4 linked regions of the Homo sapiens genome follow. The protein of the gene in region 1 interacts with the protein of each later gene in a pairwise test. Each region holds a gene or a part of one and is shown in the gene's direction. Other genes may lie near its edges.

The links. Proteins that work in one complex are often made in the same cells at the same time.
Region 2: the proteins of EPS8L1 (region 1) and WFS1 interact in binary tests that used the Homo sapiens proteins (3 or more experiments, as listed by UniProt).
Region 3: the proteins of EPS8L1 (region 1) and ABI2 interact in binary tests that used the Homo sapiens proteins (3 or more experiments, as listed by UniProt).
Region 4: the proteins of EPS8L1 (region 1) and HTT interact in binary tests that used the Homo sapiens proteins (3 or more experiments, as listed by UniProt).

The regions. Positions count from the first base shown.
Region 1 is NC_000019.10:55,081,474-55,086,707, forward strand, and holds part of EPS8L1 (epidermal growth factor receptor kinase substrate 8-like protein 1), read left to right. Parts: coding exon 1-19; intron 20-299; coding exon 300-426; intron 427-618; coding exon 619-707; intron 708-801; coding exon 802-876; intron 877-980; coding exon 981-1,129; intron 1,130-1,904; coding exon 1,905-2,046; coding exon of another isoform or gene 2,047-2,142; coding exon 2,143-2,171; intron 2,172-2,293; coding exon of another isoform or gene 2,294-2,309; exon of another isoform or gene 2,310-2,769; intron 2,770-4,245; coding exon of another isoform or gene 4,246-4,285; exon of another isoform or gene 4,286-4,367; coding exon 4,368-4,500; intron 4,501-4,587; coding exon 4,588-4,719; intron 4,720-4,918; coding exon 4,919-5,045; intron 5,046-5,234. UniProt on the Homo sapiens protein: Stimulates guanine exchange activity of SOS1. May play a role in membrane ruffling and remodeling of the actin cytoskeleton.
Region 2 is NC_000004.12:6,285,983-6,290,349, forward strand, and holds part of WFS1 (wolframin), read left to right. Parts: intron 1-1,110; coding exon 1,111-1,193; intron 1,194-3,004; coding exon 3,005-3,149; intron 3,150-4,367. UniProt on the Homo sapiens protein: Participates in the regulation of cellular Ca(2+) homeostasis, at least partly, by modulating the filling state of the endoplasmic reticulum Ca(2+) store.
Region 3 is NC_000002.12:203,376,027-203,380,393, forward strand, and holds part of ABI2 (abl interactor 2), read left to right. Parts: coding exon of another isoform or gene 1-106; intron 107-4,181; coding exon 4,182-4,358; intron 4,359-4,367. UniProt on the Homo sapiens protein: Regulator of actin cytoskeleton dynamics underlying cell motility and adhesion. Functions as a component of the WAVE complex, which activates actin nucleating machinery Arp2/3 to drive lamellipodia formation.
Region 4 is NC_000004.12:3,240,702-3,244,457, forward strand, and holds the end of HTT (huntingtin), read left to right. Parts: 3' UTR 1-3,256; downstream 3,257-3,756.

The DNA.
Region 1 (5,234 bases):
GCAGGCGGAGCGGGAAGTGGTGAGCCGCTAAGGAAGGGGTCTGGGGGCAGGGCCAGGCGACTGGAGGCGGGGCTAGGGCGTGGAAGGGCGGGGCCGGCTGCGGGACGGGCGTTCTCTGGTCAGACTTCTGCGTTATGGAAGAGGGGCTGGGTCGGGGGCGGGGCTTGGTTGTGGGGCGTGGCCAGGTGTTTGGGGCGTGGCCTGATCTGGGGAAGTGTATAGGTGCTCAGGTTCAGGGCTTCGACGGGGATGGTTTTGGAACTCGGGAGCCCTGAGCGTCCCCCTCCTCTGTCCCCTAGGACATCCTGAACCACGTGTTCGACGACGTAGAGAGCTTTGTATCGAGGCTGCAGAAGTCGGCGGAGGCGGCCAGGGTGCTGGAGCACCGGGAACGCGGCCGCAGGAGCCGGCGCCGGGCGGCTGGGGGTAAGGGGCACCCTGGCGTGGGATCTGAACCCCCTCCCGATCTCTTCCAAATGTCCCCGCTCTCCCCAGGCTCTCCCCTCCCGCCACTTGCCAGGGCTGACCTCACCGCCATCTTAACCGGGTGTCCACCTCTCTCTGCCTGCCTGGTGCTGGCCCCGCGTCCCCATCGCCGCGCCCGTCTGCTCCCCTCAGAGGGCTTGCTGACGCTGCGGGCCAAGCCGCCCTCGGAGGCCGAGTACACCGACGTGCTGCAGAAGATCAAGTACGCCTTCAGCCTGCTGGTGAGGACGCGCCCGCCCCTGGGCCGGGGCGCGGGCACGACGAACCTGTCCCGTCCCCGCACCCACGCCAACCACCTCCCTCCCCACGCCCCAGGCCCGGCTGCGCGGCAACATCGCCGACCCCTCCTCTCCGGAGCTGTTGCACTTCCTTTTCGGGCCTCTGCAGATGGTGAGACCCGCCCCAGGCCCTCGGGCCCCCCTGCAGCGGGAGGAATCGGGTTCGACTTGTAGAAGGTGTGGCGGCACAGCCTGCCCCTCCTGCTCCCCTGACAGATTGTGAACACGTCGGGGGGGCCGGAGTTCGCGAGCAGTGTGCGGCGGCCGCATCTGACATCGGATGCCGTGGCGCTGCTGCGGGACAACGTCACTCCACGTGAAAACGAGCTCTGGACCTCGCTGGGGGACTCGTGGACCCGCCCCGGGTGAGGGGCGGGGCTGGGAGGCAGGGGGCATGGTGATTGGAGGAGCATAAGGCGCTGGGAGGTGGGTGGCATGATGATTGGAAAATAGGACTAGGAGAGTAGGGAGGGGTTAGAGGCGTGGCTTAGTTGTGTTGGGGCGGGGCTTAGGACAGATGCCAAGATTCAATTGGAGGAAAGGCCAGGAATTAACGTGAAGGAAAGATTTAAGACCACCAGACCAATCGGATTGAAAGAAAAGGGGGGCTTAAAGGAATAGAGGGGCTAGGGGCTACGGGGCAGGGGCGGGGCTACGCGAAGGGGCGGGGCTTCTGGAAGGTTTGGTCTATAACTTTGGTGATGGGACAGAGTCTGTGCACTGCGGGCTGGCAGTTCCGCAGGGAAAGGGTCAGAACCTGAAACCGACCTTACGGAAAACCTGATTTGGAATCAGGTGAGATTTAGAGGCTGGATAAGGCAATTTTTTTCCAGAGAGAGAGATGGATGGGGTCTCAATATTTTGCCCAGGCTGGTCTGGAACTCCTGGCCTCAAGCGATCCTCCCATCTTGGCCTCCCAAAATGCTGGGATTACAGGCGTGAGCCACCGTGCCCGGTCTAGAAATATAAATTGCTGTTGAGTTGGGCTTAGAGCTACCGGCAGGACTTGGTGAAAAGTGGCGGGGCTAGAATCGTTGGAATACAGCGAGCTTTAGGGGAAAACTTAGTGAAGTTAATGCAGGAACGAAGTTGGGGGCTGTATCAGGATCCCTGAGCTCTTGGCCCTGTCCCTGGCCGCAGGCTGGAGCTGTCCCCGGAGGAGGGACCCCCATACAGACCCGAGTTCTTCAGCGGCTGGGAGCCGCCGGTCACTGACCCGCAGAGCCGCGCCTGGGAGGACCCAGTTGAGAAACAGCTACAGCACGAGCGGAGGCGCCGGCAGGTGACCCAAGCGACACAGCAGGGCCGAGGCTGGGAAGTCCGGGGGCGCGGCCGGTCCGCCTGGCCCCGCCTGACCCGACTGTCTTACTTCCTACAGCAAAGCGCCCCCCAGGTCGCTGTCAATGGGTGAGTGTCCGCCCCAGGGCAGGGCAAGGGGGTCAAGGAGGGGTGCGTCCCGGGGGCTCCCGATGCTGACTCCGCCCCCTTTTTTTCTGTGTTTTTCCTTCTGTCTTCCTGGCTCTTCTCAGGTGGGTGAGATGGTGATGGGGCGGGCCGGGGCTGGGAGAGAGGGAGGAGCAGGGTGGGAGGGGGCGGGACCCAGACTTCTGGGGCTAAGGGAGTTGGGAATGGAGACCCGGATTCCTGGGCCTAAGGGAGGAAGGGGGCTGGGAGTGGGTAAAGTCTGAGAGGTTGGATCCCTGGATCCCCAAAAGGCTGGAAGAAGCCAGTTTGTTTTCCCAGGGCCTGGGAAGCACCATGCCTGGGCTCCCTAGGAGGACAGAGCCCTGGATATTGGAGGGGAGAGGCTGGGGAATTGGACCTTTGGGTTTTGAAGAAGAGCCCAAGTCTGGTGCTTGGGATCCTGGAGACCCAGAGGAGCAGGCTTGGGACTTCAAGGGCTTGGGGGCAAGTTTCTGGGAAAGTTAGGAAGTGGTAGTATCTCTGGGCCCCCGAGAGGGGTAAAGGCTGGACGATTAAACTCTTGGTTTTCCAGAGGCTCTAATGCAATTGTCTAAGTCGCTGCTGGGTGTCGGACTGGGTTAAAAGGTTTGAGGGTTAAAAGGATAAGATTGAAGCTTGAGACCTGGACTCCTAGGTCCCTGGGGGAGGAAAGAACATTCCAAGTCATGGTTCTACCAAGCAGTGGGGGCTCAGACTCTGGGTCCTGGGGGAGGGAAGGAGGTAGATGGACTAGAACTCTAGGGTCCTTGAGCAAATAGAGGGCAGACTGGAGGGAAGCAACGTGGGAGGAGACGAAAACAAAGCAGTGAGGCTGGAGGAGACAAAGGGGGGTCTGGGTGAGGGCCCGAGCAGAGGGTCTCAGCAGGGACAGCGTGCTGGGAGCTGCCGGCCCCACACAGGGGGTGCCGCGGCCCTGAAGACCCCCCCTCTCCCCTGCACAGGTAGGCCTGATCCAGGCTGAGGTCCCTCTTATTGGGGGTCAGAGCTGAAATCCCACCCCTGCCCCCAGCTGCCTGATATCGCAACCCTGGTCCCTGTTCACAGCTTCAAGTCACTTTCTCCGAGCCTCAAGTTCTTTTTTGCAGGGAAACTGGGAATAATGATTATCCGTTCCCGGAACAGTGAGAAGTCTGTGGTGTTGTAGGAACTAGCAGTTAAGGGCTTAAGGCTGTGACCAGGTTCAAGTTCAAGTCCAGCTGCCTGCAAACTAAGGCAGCATTATTCAGACCTGGGCTACCCTGGTCCCGGGCTGGCGATGCCACTCTCTTACTCTGTGACCTTTACATCCCTGTGCCTCAGCTTCCTCCTCTGTGAAAATGGAGGAGATCATAGGGTCTCTGGGGGAGGAAGAAACTGGGGGAGAGAGGGGAGTCCAAATTCATGGTTCTACCAACCGTTGTCATAAAGATCAAATTAACTAATATACGTAACAGAACAGTGCCCAGCACACAGTAAGTGGTACAGAAGTGGTAGCTATTGTTTTTTGAGACAGTCTCACTCTGTCATCAGGCTGGAGTGCAGTGGTGAGATCTCAGCTCACTGCAACTTCTGCCTGCCAGGTTCAAGCAATTCTCCTGCCTCAGCCTCCAGAATAGCTGGGACTACAGGCGCGTGCCACCACGCCCAGCTAATTTGGGTATTTTTTAGTAGAGACAGGGTTTCACCATGTTGGCCAGGATGGTCTTGATCTCTTGACCTCATGATCTGCCCGCCTCAGCCTCCCAAAGCGCTGGGATTACAGGCGTGAGCCACCGCGCCCGGCCTAGCTAGTGTTTTTATTATGCTTATGAGTTATGATATATAAAGCCCAGTGCCTATTAGATGCTCAATAAATGACAGCTGTTTCTAGCTGTGTGATGTGGGCAAGTCATTTTCTCGCTCTGAGCCTCATTCTCCTCTGTAAAATGGAATCGATGGTGGGATAGTACCCACTACATATGCCTACAGCACAATGCCAAGCAACGGAGGGAGCAAATATATTCAGTCTGTTATTCTTGTTTCAAATTTCTATTAACAGTATTAACCCGGCCCCTGCTGTGCCCCCAGCTTGGCTCTAACCCCAGCTCACACCAGCACCCTGCAGCCCAGAGCAATGGGGCTGGCTGCCTCCTTATCTCCAACCCTCCCGCTTCTCCTCAGTCACCGAGACTTGGAGCCAGAATCTGAGCCTCAGCTGGAGTCAGAGACAGCAGGAAAATGGGTCCTGTGTAATTATGACTTCCAGGCCCGCAACAGCAGTGAGCTGTCGGTCAAGCAGCGGGACGTACTGGAGGTTAGAGGAGCGGGAGGCTGAGGGGCAGGAATTAGCCAGCCCTAGCTGCAGACAGGCTCTGAACCCTCTGTTCTTTACCACACCCAGGTCCTGGATGACAGTCGTAAGTGGTGGAAGGTTCGGGACCCAGCGGGGCAGGAGGGATATGTGCCCTACAACATCCTGACACCCTACCCCGGACCCCGGCTGCACCACAGCCAAAGCCCTGCCCGCAGCCTGGTGAGCCAGCGCAGACGCTGGGATCTTGAGGGTGGAGAGGCTGGGACCAGATCCTGGGAACAAGGGGCGTGGGGATCAGCTGTCAAGAGTGCTGGAGCAGGTGGTGACTGGGGGTTCAGAAATGCATCTCCAGAAAGGGGAGAGGCTGGGACTCTGAGTCCTCTCCCTAACCCAGGTACTCTCCTCTCCTTCCTTTCAGAACAGCACTCCTCCTCCACCACCAGCCCCAGCCCCGGCCCCACCTCCAGCTCTGGCTCGGCCCCGCTGGGACAGGCCCCGCTGGGACAGCTGCGATAGCCTCAACGGCTTGGACCCCAGCGAGAAGGGTGAGTGGTGGGGACGCCGGCTGCGGGGAGCGGTCCTTATCCTTGCTTTCCAGGCAGAGAAACGGGGGCTCAGAAAGAGCAAAGGGACTCCCGTCCCATTCTGGGGACGCTGGAGCGCCCCCCCGCCCCGCCCTCTGGCCCCAGGACCCCTCGCCCTGAGCCCGCACTCCCTACCTCCCGGTTTCCCGC
Region 2 (4,367 bases), on another chromosome or scaffold:
GAACCTGTGCTAGGAAAATGACTTCCCAAAAGAAAAGAAACGGTTCATGGCACCACCGTAGAAAACAAGAGGTTATTGGAAGCAACCTACAGACCTGATGGAGAGGAGGGGAGGGTCAGTAACCTGACTCTGTCTCCTTGATGGATCTAGGAGCCACCAAAATGGTGAGCTGACTGCAGCGCATCGTGGGAAGCCAGAGAACAATCCACTGCTGTGGACTGAAAGTTTGTGTCTCTCCCAGATTCATTTGCTGAGGTCTTCACCCCCAGTCCCATGGTGTTAGGAGGTGGGGCCTTTGGAGGTGATGAATCATGAGCGATGGCTTTACGGTGGAATTAGTGCCCCTATAAAAGAAACCTCAGGGAGCTCCCTTGCCCCTTCCACCCTGTGAGGACACAGCCAGAAGACCTGAAACAAAAAGCAGGCCCTCAGTAGACACGGAGTCTGCAACACTATGATCTTGGACTTCCCAGTCTCCAGAATCGAAAGAAATACATTTCTGATGTTTGTAAGCCACCAGCTTGGTCTATGGTATTAATATTTTTGTTATAACAGCTCGAACAGACTAAGGCATTCACTCTTAAGAAGGAAAAGGTAATATCAAGATGTATATACACTGATTATAATATCCAAAAAATGTGGTTTTTGTTGGTACAATCATGGAAAACATGAACTTGATTTGTTGGGGTTCTGGGCTTCGGGTACAGGTGCTTTGTATTATTTAGGTCATGGGCTGTCAAACTTGAGTCCTTGGATCTTTCTAGAGCCCCAGCTAGAGCAGGCCTAGGCCAAGGGGTGTGATGGTGGGACTTGGCTCTGTGCTCGCCTCCTTCCCATGCCTCCCACCCCGAGCGCTTTGAGTTGCTGTTGAACCACCTCACCCGCATAGAGTTTGCTCATCTTGCTCTGGCGCTGCTTGTGACCGGAAGGCAAACAGTGGCTTTCTGGGCATCTTCCCTGTCTGTGTCTGTGTCTCTCTGTACTCCTGGCCTGGATTTGAAAGTGACAAGCAGCAGCAGATCTGAAGACCCTCATGCCTTGTCCCCTCCATCCTGACAAGTGACAAAGTCTGGCTTTGTGACATGTGTGTTTGTTTCTTCTGTGTTAAAGGGCCTACAAAGGGAGACATGGAAATCCCCTTTGAAGAAGTCCTGGAGAGGGCCAAGGCCGGGGACCCCAAGGCACAGACTGAGGTGAGGACTGCGGTGCCGGCAGGGACTTCGGGACGCGGCCCCCGGCACAACAGGCCTGGCCACGAGCTCCACAGCCCACAGAGAAGTGTCGGTGCCTGAGATCGGGGTCAGGAGCCAGCGTGGTGCACCCTACCCCACTTGAGCCCCATGTTGGTAGGGTGCCCATGTTCACTGTGCCAGTTTTCCTCCTGGCACTCCTCTGGGGAGCAGCGCTCATCCCCCTTTTGTCCAACTCACACCTCATCTTGGGCATCACCTCCTCCAGGATGACCTCCTGGCTTCCTGCAGCTGCCTGCTCAGTGCCACCCCTCAACATACACTGTGTATGCTGCCCACTCTTGTCTCCCTGACTGGCCTTTCACCTGGCTGTTAGCTGTGTGCACGGGGCCCTCAGAGCGGTGACCATTCACTTGGGCATCAGCCAAGGGCTGGGCTTTGTGCCAGTGCTGGGGACATGATGTGGCCCTCTCTTCATGGGTGACAGGTTAGTGGAAGAAGCAGACCCAAAAAACCCAAGTAGACAAGACACAGAAATACAGTGATTTTGAATTCTGGTGAGGGGAGAAGCCAGCAGAACGCTGAGACGGGAGGTGGCAGGGGGTCCTGTGTCCTCTGTGGAGGCAAGTTCTCACCACCTCACTCTGTCCCCTTGCACAGGGCTCAAGCAAGTGACCACAGTTATCCTGAGCAGTTTCCTGCCCCCTCTTCTCCCTAAAGAGGAGAAAAGCTTCCACGCGAAACCATAAATTAAGAATTTCTGGCTGGGAGCGGTGGCTCACGCCTGTAATCCCAGCACTTTGGGAGGCTGAGGCGGGTGGATCACCTGAGGTCAGGAGTTCGTGACCAGCCTGGCCAACATGATGAAACCGTGTCTCCACTACAAATAGAAAAATTAGCCAGACATGGTGGTGCATGCCTGTAATCCCAGCTACTTGGGAGGCTGAGACAGGAAAATCACTTGAACCCAGGAAGTGGAGGTTGCAGTGAGCCGAGATCGCACCACCACGCTCCCAACTGAGCAACAGAGCAAGACTCTGTCTCAAAAAAAAAAAAAAAAAAATTTCTTTCCTGACCTCACAGCCATATTGTACTTTAAAGTTCCTCCCACATCCTTTTGCCCAGGCATTTGGAGGCGGGGGGAGCATAGTAAGCCCTTTTATGGGCTCTCTGTGCCCTGGGCCTCACTTTTTCCATCTGTAGAATGAGAAGACTGGACCATTTCAGCAGGGATTCTTTTTGCAAAGGGCCAGATAGTGAATATTCTGGACTCTGCGCAATCTCTGCCGTGTTGCTCAGCTTTGCTGTGGAGCACGTAAAAGCAGCATGGACAACATGTAAATGAATGGTTATGGTTGTATTTCAATAAAACTTTATTTGCAAAAACAGGCAGTGGGCCAGTGCTAACCCTTGGTTAGCTGGCGTCTCTCCAGCCCTGGCTTTCTATGGTCCCCTGACTGTTTTGAGAGGTGTAAAGGACCCAGTCATGGTTCTGATTTCCATGCATTGATGGTGAGCCTTGGCAGGCAGGAGCAACTCAAGGAAGAGAACCTGTACCAGTACCAGTCGGAGCCCGTGTCTCCCTCGCCGTGTGGATGGGGTGGCCACACCTTCCTCACCGTGTTTTGAGGAGCGAGTGGCCGGAGGCTCAGTAGGGCCTAGCCTAGTGGACATGCCTGGTGTGACCCCATTTCTGCCCCTTCCTTCCTGGCCTGGGTGACAAAGGGAAGTGGGTGAAAGGAGGTGGGCTGGCAGGGAGCATGGGGTGGGAGAGGGTCGGAGAATCTGGAGGCTGACTGGTGTCTGGCTTGCAGGTGGGGAAGCACTACCTGCAGTTGGCCGGCGACACGGATGAAGAACTCAACAGCTGCACCGCTGTGGACTGGCTGGTCCTCGCCGCGAAGCAGGGCCGTCGCGAGGCTGTGAAGCTGCTTCGCCGGTGCTTGGCGGACAGAAGAGGTGGGTCTGTGTGAGGCTTAGAACAGCCTCTGGAGGGTTGAGCAGCTTGTAATGCTGCTTGCTAACTGAACAACTAAAATCTTACCAAACCTAACGCTGGTGATGCTGTTGGGAAATTTCAGTTTCTGTTTTGCTGGTGGCCTTCTCATTTTAGACACTGTTTCTGGACTTAACATGGGATATTTAACAGACCAAGCCATTTTCATTCTCTTTGGCTTGTGTTGGTATCTCCAAGTGGTAACTATACATCCTGCTTCCCTGCTGGGTTCTGATCCAAACTGAGACATCGATCCTGGGTTCAGCTGAGAGGCAGTTTCCCTGAGGCAAAGCTGGAGACTGTAATGTGGCCTGCAGTCAGAGTGGCCCATGCCCCTGAGCTGATGTCCGTCGAGTCTGGGCAGACCAGCTGAGGGGCTGTGGGCCCACACAGACCTGGACAAGCATGTTCACTTTGGGAGGAGGCAGGCTGACCCTTCATAGATAATCTCTTTCAAACAGAGAGGCAGGGGAGGAAAGGGACGCAGCTCAGGCCAGGGGTGGTGAGTTAGGACGTTGTCCTGCGCAAGGGAAGTGGCTGTCCCTGGTGCCGTGGGGCAGTGTGCTTCCTGAAGGTTCCACGCCTCAGGGAAAGATGAAAGTGGGTGTCACAAAGGTGTTTTTTCTAATGATACCTTTTTTTTCAGATTGTAAGAGTATTTTATGCTTATCATAGAAAACTTGGACTATGTAGAAAACATAAAGATACAAATTACTCATAACCTTGAAGCCCAGAAGCAACTCCCCATATTTTGGTGTATTTCCTTCTGTGTTTGTTGTTGTTGTTTTGAGATGGAGTCTCACTCTGTCGCCCAGGCTAGAGTGCAGGGGTGCGATCTCAAGTCACTGTAACCTCCACCTCCCTGGTTCAAGCAATTCTCCTGCCTCAGCCTTTTGAGTAGCTGAGATTACAGGCGTGCATTACCACACCTAGCTAATTTTTGTATTTTTAGCAGAGACAGGGTTTCATCAGGTTGGCCAGGCTGGTCACAAACTCCTGACCTCAGGGGATCCACCCTCCTTGGCCTCCCAAAGTGATGAGAGTACAGGCGTGAGCCACCATGCCCAGCTTGTATCATATTTTAAGAGTTACATTTATTATACAGAGTCTTCTCTTTGAAAATTAAACTGATGATTTTGAAAAACTAACAGTGGCATTGTTAGCCAGAATTTCTCACCAAC
Region 3 (4,367 bases), on another chromosome or scaffold:
AAGTTATTTACTTAAAATATCTATACTTAGGCAAATTAGAGGCGTTGATCTTGAGTCGACTTTTGTGACCAAATTTGGAAACAATTGCAGTTTGAGATTGAATGAGGTAAGGGACCAGCTAATTAGTCCTTCCTCTATAGATCTTTGGTTCTCAACCAGGGAAGTTTTGCCCCCAAGGGGACATTTGGCAATGTTAGACATTTTTGGTTGTCACATCTCATGGTGGGGGAGTGCTACAGTTATCTACCTGGATGCTTTTCTATATTCTGCAATCCTCAAGACAGCAGCCTTCACCCCTGCCCACAACAAAGAATTATCAAGCCCAAAATGTCAATAGTGCCACTGTTGAGTTACCCTGCCCCTAGTGTTTCTAAGATGTAGGCATTCTTTGAAGTAGACAATTAAAAACATCATATAGCCAAACTAAATTATTTTGACTTTCTGTATACTTATGCTGTTTAAAAAACATGCCTTCAGTTTTTACTGAGATTTGATATAAAAAGCAACAACAAATATATTTTTAAAGAATTTAATCCTGGGAAACATTTCACTTTCCTGATGAATTGATATATTTCCTCGTAACTCATTATGTTTCTATTTTGCCTTCTCTCCCTGGAGGCTTAGTGCCAATTTTTTTGCTCTATTATAACAATGACCCTTTATTTTAGGCTTATTGTTATCTTTCTATTTACTGTATTGGTCTTCCCTTTTTTTTTTTTTTTTTTTACTGTTATGGTCTATGGGTTTGGGCTAAGTGTGTGTTTGTGTGTATATGAAGAGAACATGTGGGTAATATGTAAATGTCCCCAATCCCTAGACCAAGTCACATCTCTATAAGATCAAATGAACAGATTTCTAATTTATATTTTAATGCTTTTTTAAAGTCTCAATTTTTCAAACAAGAAATATGTGCTTGTTATAAAATATTACTGTGTGTTAGTGTAAATAATAAGTGGAAGATTACTTCTCCCTGTTCATTCTCTGGAGATTTATTAATATTTCTAGTATGTGCCAGGCATAGTGGCTCATGCCTATAATCCCAGCACTTTGGGAGACTGAGGCAGGAGCATTGTTTGAGGTCAGGAGTTCAAGACCATCCTGGGCAACACAGTGACATCCCATCTCTACAAAAAATAAAATTAGCTGGGCATGGTGGTACATGCCTGTAGTCCTAGCTACTCAGGAGGCTGAGGTAAGAGGATGCTTGAGCCTAGGAGTTCAAGACTACAGTATGCTATGATTGTCCCATTGCACTCCAGCCTCTGTGACAGAGTGAGAACCTGTTGCAAAAAAATGTATATTTATAGTATGCAGATGTGAAATAGAAGCTATAAGCTTGTAATTCTGTTATGGCTGCTCAGGTTTACACTCTTATAGTTTCATTTCTGAATAAGTTAAGTACATTTCTAAAAACTGAGGAGAATAAAAACAATGTCTTGAGGATTGTGTTATCTGATGAACCTTTTATTGATCTGACGAAGACCCATTTTATAAAAAAAGTGTCATATTTTATTTTTTGAAGCATACTTGATGGTATGAAATGGTATTTCTAGCCCATACTTTTAATGATTTAGAATGACTCACTAAACTTTATTCAAGGCCAGTACATTGGCTTACTCCTGTAATCCCAGCACTTTGGGAGGCCAAGGTGGGTGGATCACTTGAGCTTAGGAGTTCAAGACCTGCCTGGGCAACATGGAAAAACCCCAACTCTACAGACAGTAGAGAAATTAGGCCAGCATGGTGGAACACGCCTGTAGTCCCAGCTCCTTAGGAAGCTCAGGCGGGAGAATCATTTCAGCCTGAGAGGTCGAGGATGCAGTGAGCCATGATCGGGCCAGTCCACTCCAGCCTGGGCGACAGAGTGAGATACTGTCTCATAAAAATAAAATTTAATCCAAATGTGATTAATTTCCATTTCTCTAAAGTTAAAAATTAAGTGAATTCCAATATCATCACTAATATGCAAGCTTAACTTTTCTGTTACAGTTTTCCCAAGCAGTTGAAGAGGAAAGCTATTCTCATAATTAGCCTAACATGCGTAGAAAAGTTTAGAGATTATTTTTTTTCTTTTTCTTTTTCTTTTCTTTTCTTTTTTTTTTTTAAGATGGAGTCTCGCTCTGTTGCCCAGGCTGGAGTGCAGTGGCACAATCTCGGCTCATTGCAAGCTCTGCCTCCTGGGTTCACGCCATTCTCCTGCCTCAGCCCCCCAAGTAGCTGGGACTACAGGCACCCGCCACCATGCCCGGCTAATTTTTGTATTTTTAGTAGAGACGGGGTTTCACCGTGTTAGCCAGGATGGTCTCGATCTCCGGACTTTGTGATCCGCCCACCTTGGCCTCCCAAAGTGCTGGGATTATAGGCGTGAGCCACCATGCCTGGCTGAGATTGTTTTTTTCTTGAATACTTAAAATTGTAAGATTACTACCATGGTTAGTTTTTTATTTGATGTTCCATTTATACATTCGTTAGCTCTGGAACATATAGATCCTGTTGTTTTTAAGGTCTCTTGGTTGTAGAGAAATAAGAGGCTTTGAATTTGTTTCAGGCTTACCTCATACTTGAGGCAGTTTAGAAGGATAAATGATCAGTGTTCAGATTTCTTAAAGCAGTATTTTATAATGTCATGATGATTATCTTTTCACTGTTACTACCAGGTTCTTTTAGAAAGGGGAAATTGAAGTAGGACATTGAAGTGGGACTGGGGAGGAGTTAGCAAAAAATGTGTCTGTTGATTGCTGCTTGAGCCAGGAATTGGTGGTAAGAGATGTGAACCATTTTAGTGAAGTGATTTTTCAAACTCTTTTGACTGCGACACACAGGAAAAAATTTTTTTTACGTTGTATTCAGCACATAATTCATGTATATATTTATATATATAATAAACAGACTTTTCAAGAAACAGTATTTTACCTTACTATGTGTACATGCAGTCTGATGTTTCTGTTCTATTTGATTTGAAATAATTGCTGCTTACATACCACTAAATTGCAGCTTGCAGTTTAAAAAATTTTGCTTTAGTGTACTAATTACCTGTGTATGTGGAGAAATTCACCCTCTGTTAGCAAATAGAAGATTGTAATTACAATACATTCTTACTCGTATGTCTTATGTGAGCATTTAATAAATATAAATAAATTAATGAAATATTTTACAGGCATTTTGTCATGATAAAATATAAGCAGCTTTGCCCAAGCAACTTGGTCTTTTGGGGTCAAAAAATGGCTTTTTTGTTTTTTGACACAGGGTCTTGCTCTGTCACCCAGGCTAGAGTGCAGTGGTGCATTCATGGCTCACTGCAGCTTTGACCTCCTGGACTCAAGCAGTTCTCTTATTTCAGCCTCTCAGTTAGCTGGGATTACAGGCATGTGCTGTCATACCCAGCTACTTTTTGTAGAGACGGGGTTTCGCCATGTTGCCCAGGCTGGTCATGAACTCCTGGGATCAAGCAATCTGCCCACCTTGGCCTCCCAAAGTGCTTGGATTACGGGCCTGAGCCACTGTGCCTGGCTTTATTTTTAACATTATATTTCAGCCCTCTTTCTTTTTAAATAAAAAGATGTTTAAACATGAATAGAAATTATACTAATAGGTCATTAGAAATGTAACTAGATTAATTTCGGGGGCTTTCTTAATCACTATATTAGTCTAAATCTTAATGGAGAGGGAAAAATTAGCATGCTTTAACCCAGGGGTTGGCAAACCTTTTCTGTAAAGGAGCCAGCTAATATATACTTCAGTTTTTGTGGGCCATACCATCTCTGTTGTGGCTCATCTCTGCCATTACAGTGTAAAGCCTAGACAGATAAGCAAGTGAGCGGCATGGCTGTATTCCAATAAAACTTTACTTATGGAAAAGCAAATTTGAATTTTATATAATTTTCACGTGAAGGTTTTTTTTGGTTGTTCTTTTCTCCAAACATTAAAAAATGTAAACACCACTCTTAGCTTGTGGGCTGTAAAAATCAGATGATGGGCCAGATTTGGCCTGTGGGCCATGGTTTACCAGCCCTTGCTTTAACCTAAAAATGGAGAAAATCAGTAGTCCAGAAGAATAAAAATTTAGCAAGCATAGTTTAGAATATGAGTAGCAATATTAAATCTCTAGGCATATATATTTTGATTTTTGTGGATATTAGAACTATACATTTTTGTGTTGTTTTTTACATTATATTTTGCAGACAGTTGATATTCATAAAGAGAAAGTTGCAAGAAGAGAAATTGGTATTTTGACTACCAATAAAAACACTTCAAGGACACATAAGATTATTGCTCCAGCCAACCTTGAACGACCAGTTCGTTATATTAGAAAACCTATTGACTATACAATTCTAGATGATATTGGACATGGAGTAAAGGTAGGTATA
Region 4 (3,756 bases), on another chromosome or scaffold:
TGCTGCATGCGACAGCGTCCGGGGTGGTGGACAGGGCCCCCGGCCACGCTCCCTCTCCTGTAGCCACTGGCATAGCCCTCCTGAGCACCCGCTGACATTTCCGTTGTACATGTTCCTGTTTATGCATTCACAAGGTGACTGGGATGTAGAGAGGCGTTAGTGGGCAGGTGGCCACAGCAGGACTGAGGACAGGCCCCCATTATCCTAGGGGTGCGCTCACCTGCAGCCCCTCCTCCTCGGGCACAGACGACTGTCGTTCTCCACCCACCAGTCAGGGACAGCAGCCTCCCTGTCACTCAGCTGAGAAGGCCAGCCCTCCCTGGCTGTGAGCAGCCTCCACTGTGTCCAGAGACATGGGCCTCCCACTCCTGTTCCTTGCTAGCCCTGGGGTGGCGTCTGCCTAGGAGCTGGCTGGCAGGTGTTGGGACCTGCTGCTCCATGGATGCATGCCCTAAGAGTGTCACTGAGCTGTGTTTTGTCTGAGCCTCTCTCGGTCAACAGCAAAGCTTGGTGTCTTGGCACTGTTAGTGACAGAGCCCAGCATCCCTTCTGCCCCCGTTCCAGCTGACATCTTGCACGGTGACCCCTTTTAGTCAGGAGAGTGCAGATCTGTGCTCATCGGAGACTGCCCCACGGCCCTGTCAGAGCCGCCACTCCTATCCCCAGGCCAGGTCCCTGGACCAGCCTCCTGTTTGCAGGCCCAGAGGAGCCAAGTCATTAAAATGGAAGTGGATTCTGGATGGCCGGGCTGCTGCTGATGTAGGAGCTGGATTTGGGAGCTCTGCTTGCCGACTGGCTGTGAGACGAGGCAGGGGCTCTGCTTCCTCAGCCCTAGAGGCGAGCCAGGCAAGGTTGGCGACTGTCATGTGGCTTGGTTTGGTCATGCCCGTCGATGTTTTGGGTATTGAATGTGGTAAGTGGAGGAAATGTTGGAACTCTGTGCAGGTGCTGCCTTGAGACCCCCAAGCTTCCACCTGTCCCTCTCCTATGTGGCAGCTGGGGAGCAGCTGAGATGTGGACTTGTATGCTGCCCACATACGTGAGGGGGAGCTGAAAGGGAGCCCCTCCTCTGAGCAGCCTCTGCCAGGCCTGTATGAGGCTTTTCCCACCAGCTCCCAACAGAGGCCTCCCCCAGCCAGGACCACCTCGTCCTCGTGGCGGGGCAGCAGGAGCGGTAGAAAGGGGTCCGATGTTTGAGGAGGCCCTTAAGGGAAGCTACTGAATTATAACACGTAAGAAAATCACCATTCCGTATTGGTTGGGGGCTCCTGTTTCTCATCCTAGCTTTTTCCTGGAAAGCCCGCTAGAAGGTTTGGGAACGAGGGGAAAGTTCTCAGAACTGTTGGCTGCTCCCCACCCGCCTCCCGCCTCCCCCGCAGGTTATGTCAGCAGCTCTGAGACAGCAGTATCACAGGCCAGATGTTGTTCCTGGCTAGATGTTTACATTTGTAAGAAATAACACTGTGAATGTAAAACAGAGCCATTCCCTTGGAATGCATATCGCTGGGCTCAACATAGAGTTTGTCTTCCTCTTGTTTACGACGTGATCTAAACCAGTCCTTAGCAAGGGGCTCAGAACACCCCGCTCTGGCAGTAGGTGTCCCCCACCCCCAAAGACCTGCCTGTGTGCTCCGGAGATGAATATGAGCTCATTAGTAAAAATGACTTCACCCACGCATATACATAAAGTATCCATGCATGTGCATATAGACACATCTATAATTTTACACACACACCTCTCAAGACGGAGATGCATGGCCTCTAAGAGTGCCCGTGTCGGTTCTTCCTGGAAGTTGACTTTCCTTAGACCCGCCAGGTCAAGTTAGCCGCGTGACGGACATCCAGGCGTGGGACGTGGTCAGGGCAGGGCTCATTCATTGCCCACTAGGATCCCACTGGCGAAGATGGTCTCCATATCAGCTCTCTGCAGAAGGGAGGAAGACTTTATCATGTTCCTAAAAATCTGTGGCAAGCACCCATCGTATTATCCAAATTTTGTTGCAAATGTGATTAATTTGGTTGTCAAGTTTTGGGGGTGGGCTGTGGGGAGATTGCTTTTGTTTTCCTGCTGGTAATATCGGGAAAGATTTTAATGAAACCAGGGTAGAATTGTTTGGCAATGCACTGAAGCGTGTTTCTTTCCCAAAATGTGCCTCCCTTCCGCTGCGGGCCCAGCTGAGTCTATGTAGGTGATGTTTCCAGCTGCCAAGTGCTCTTTGTTACTGTCCACCCTCATTTCTGCCAGCGCATGTGTCCTTTCAAGGGGAAAATGTGAAGCTGAACCCCCTCCAGACACCCAGAATGTAGCATCTGAGAAGGCCCTGTGCCCTAAAGGACACCCCTCGCCCCCATCTTCATGGAGGGGGTCATTTCAGAGCCCTCGGAGCCAATGAACAGCTCCTCCTCTTGGAGCTGAGATGAGCCCCACGTGGAGCTCGGGACGGATAGTAGACAGCAATAACTCGGTGTGTGGCCGCCTGGCAGGTGGAACTTCCTCCCGTTGCGGGGTGGAGTGAGGTTAGTTCTGTGTGTCTGGTGGGTGGAGTCAGGCTTCTCTTGCTACCTGTGAGCATCCTTCCCAGCAGACATCCTCATCGGGCTTTGTCCCTCCCCCGCTTCCTCCCTCTGCGGGGAGGACCCGGGACCACAGCTGCTGGCCAGGGTAGACTTGGAGCTGTCCTCCAGAGGGGTCACGTGTAGGAGTGAGAAGAAGGAAGATCTTGAGAGCTGCTGAGGGACCTTGGAGAGCTCAGGATGGCTCAGACGAGGACACTCGCTTGCCGGGCCTGGGCCTCCTGGGAAGGAGGGAGCTGCTCAGAATGCCGCATGACAACTGAAGGCAACCTGGAAGGTTCAGGGGCCGCTCTTCCCCCATGTGCCTGTCACGCTCTGGTGCAGTCAAAGGAACGCCTTCCCCTCAGTTGTTTCTAAGAGCAGAGTCTCCCGCTGCAATCTGGGTGGTAACTGCCAGCCTTGGAGGATCGTGGCCAACGTGGACCTGCCTACGGAGGGTGGGCTCTGACCCAAGTGGGGCCTCCTTGTCCAGGTCTCACTGCTTTGCACCGTGGTCAGAGGGACTGTCAGCTGAGCTTGAGCTCCCCTGGAGCCAGCAGGGCTGTGATGGGCGAGTCCCGGAGCCCCACCCAGACCTGAATGCTTCTGAGAGCAAAGGGAAGGACTGACGAGAGATGTATATTTAATTTTTTAACTGCTGCAAACATTGTACATCCAAATTAAAGGAAAAAAATGGAAACCATCAGTTGTTGCTGTGTGAGGCTTGCTTTGCTTCATGAGAACCTAGACCTTGCTGAGCTGGAGTCTTAGGAAGCAGTCTCCTAAGTGCTTCTCCAGCAGGGGCAGAAACTGTCCCACCAGCTAACATCTGGCATTATGGAGGGTCCCCCAGGCAGCTGCCAGCAGGGACAGGCCCCGTGTTTTCTGTAGCCAGGGATGAGGAAGTGGCCCCAGGGCATGGGCCTGGCTGGGTGCTTCTGCAAGGGCCTTCCCAAACCACAGTACAGGTGGTCTTCCTGCCCTGCAGATGGGAGCTGTGGGAGCTGCTGGAGCTGCTGGAGCCTTCATGGTCAAGTGACATCATAAGCTTATATGACATACACAAGCCTCAGGACTTGGCCCATGGCACTGAAGCAGGTCATCAGGCCCAGCACAGAGACTAGAGCTGTGTTCTCACAGGGCCCACCACCCTTCCACCTCCTTGGCCATTGACACCTGCGTCCCTGGCCCAGCTGCTCCCAG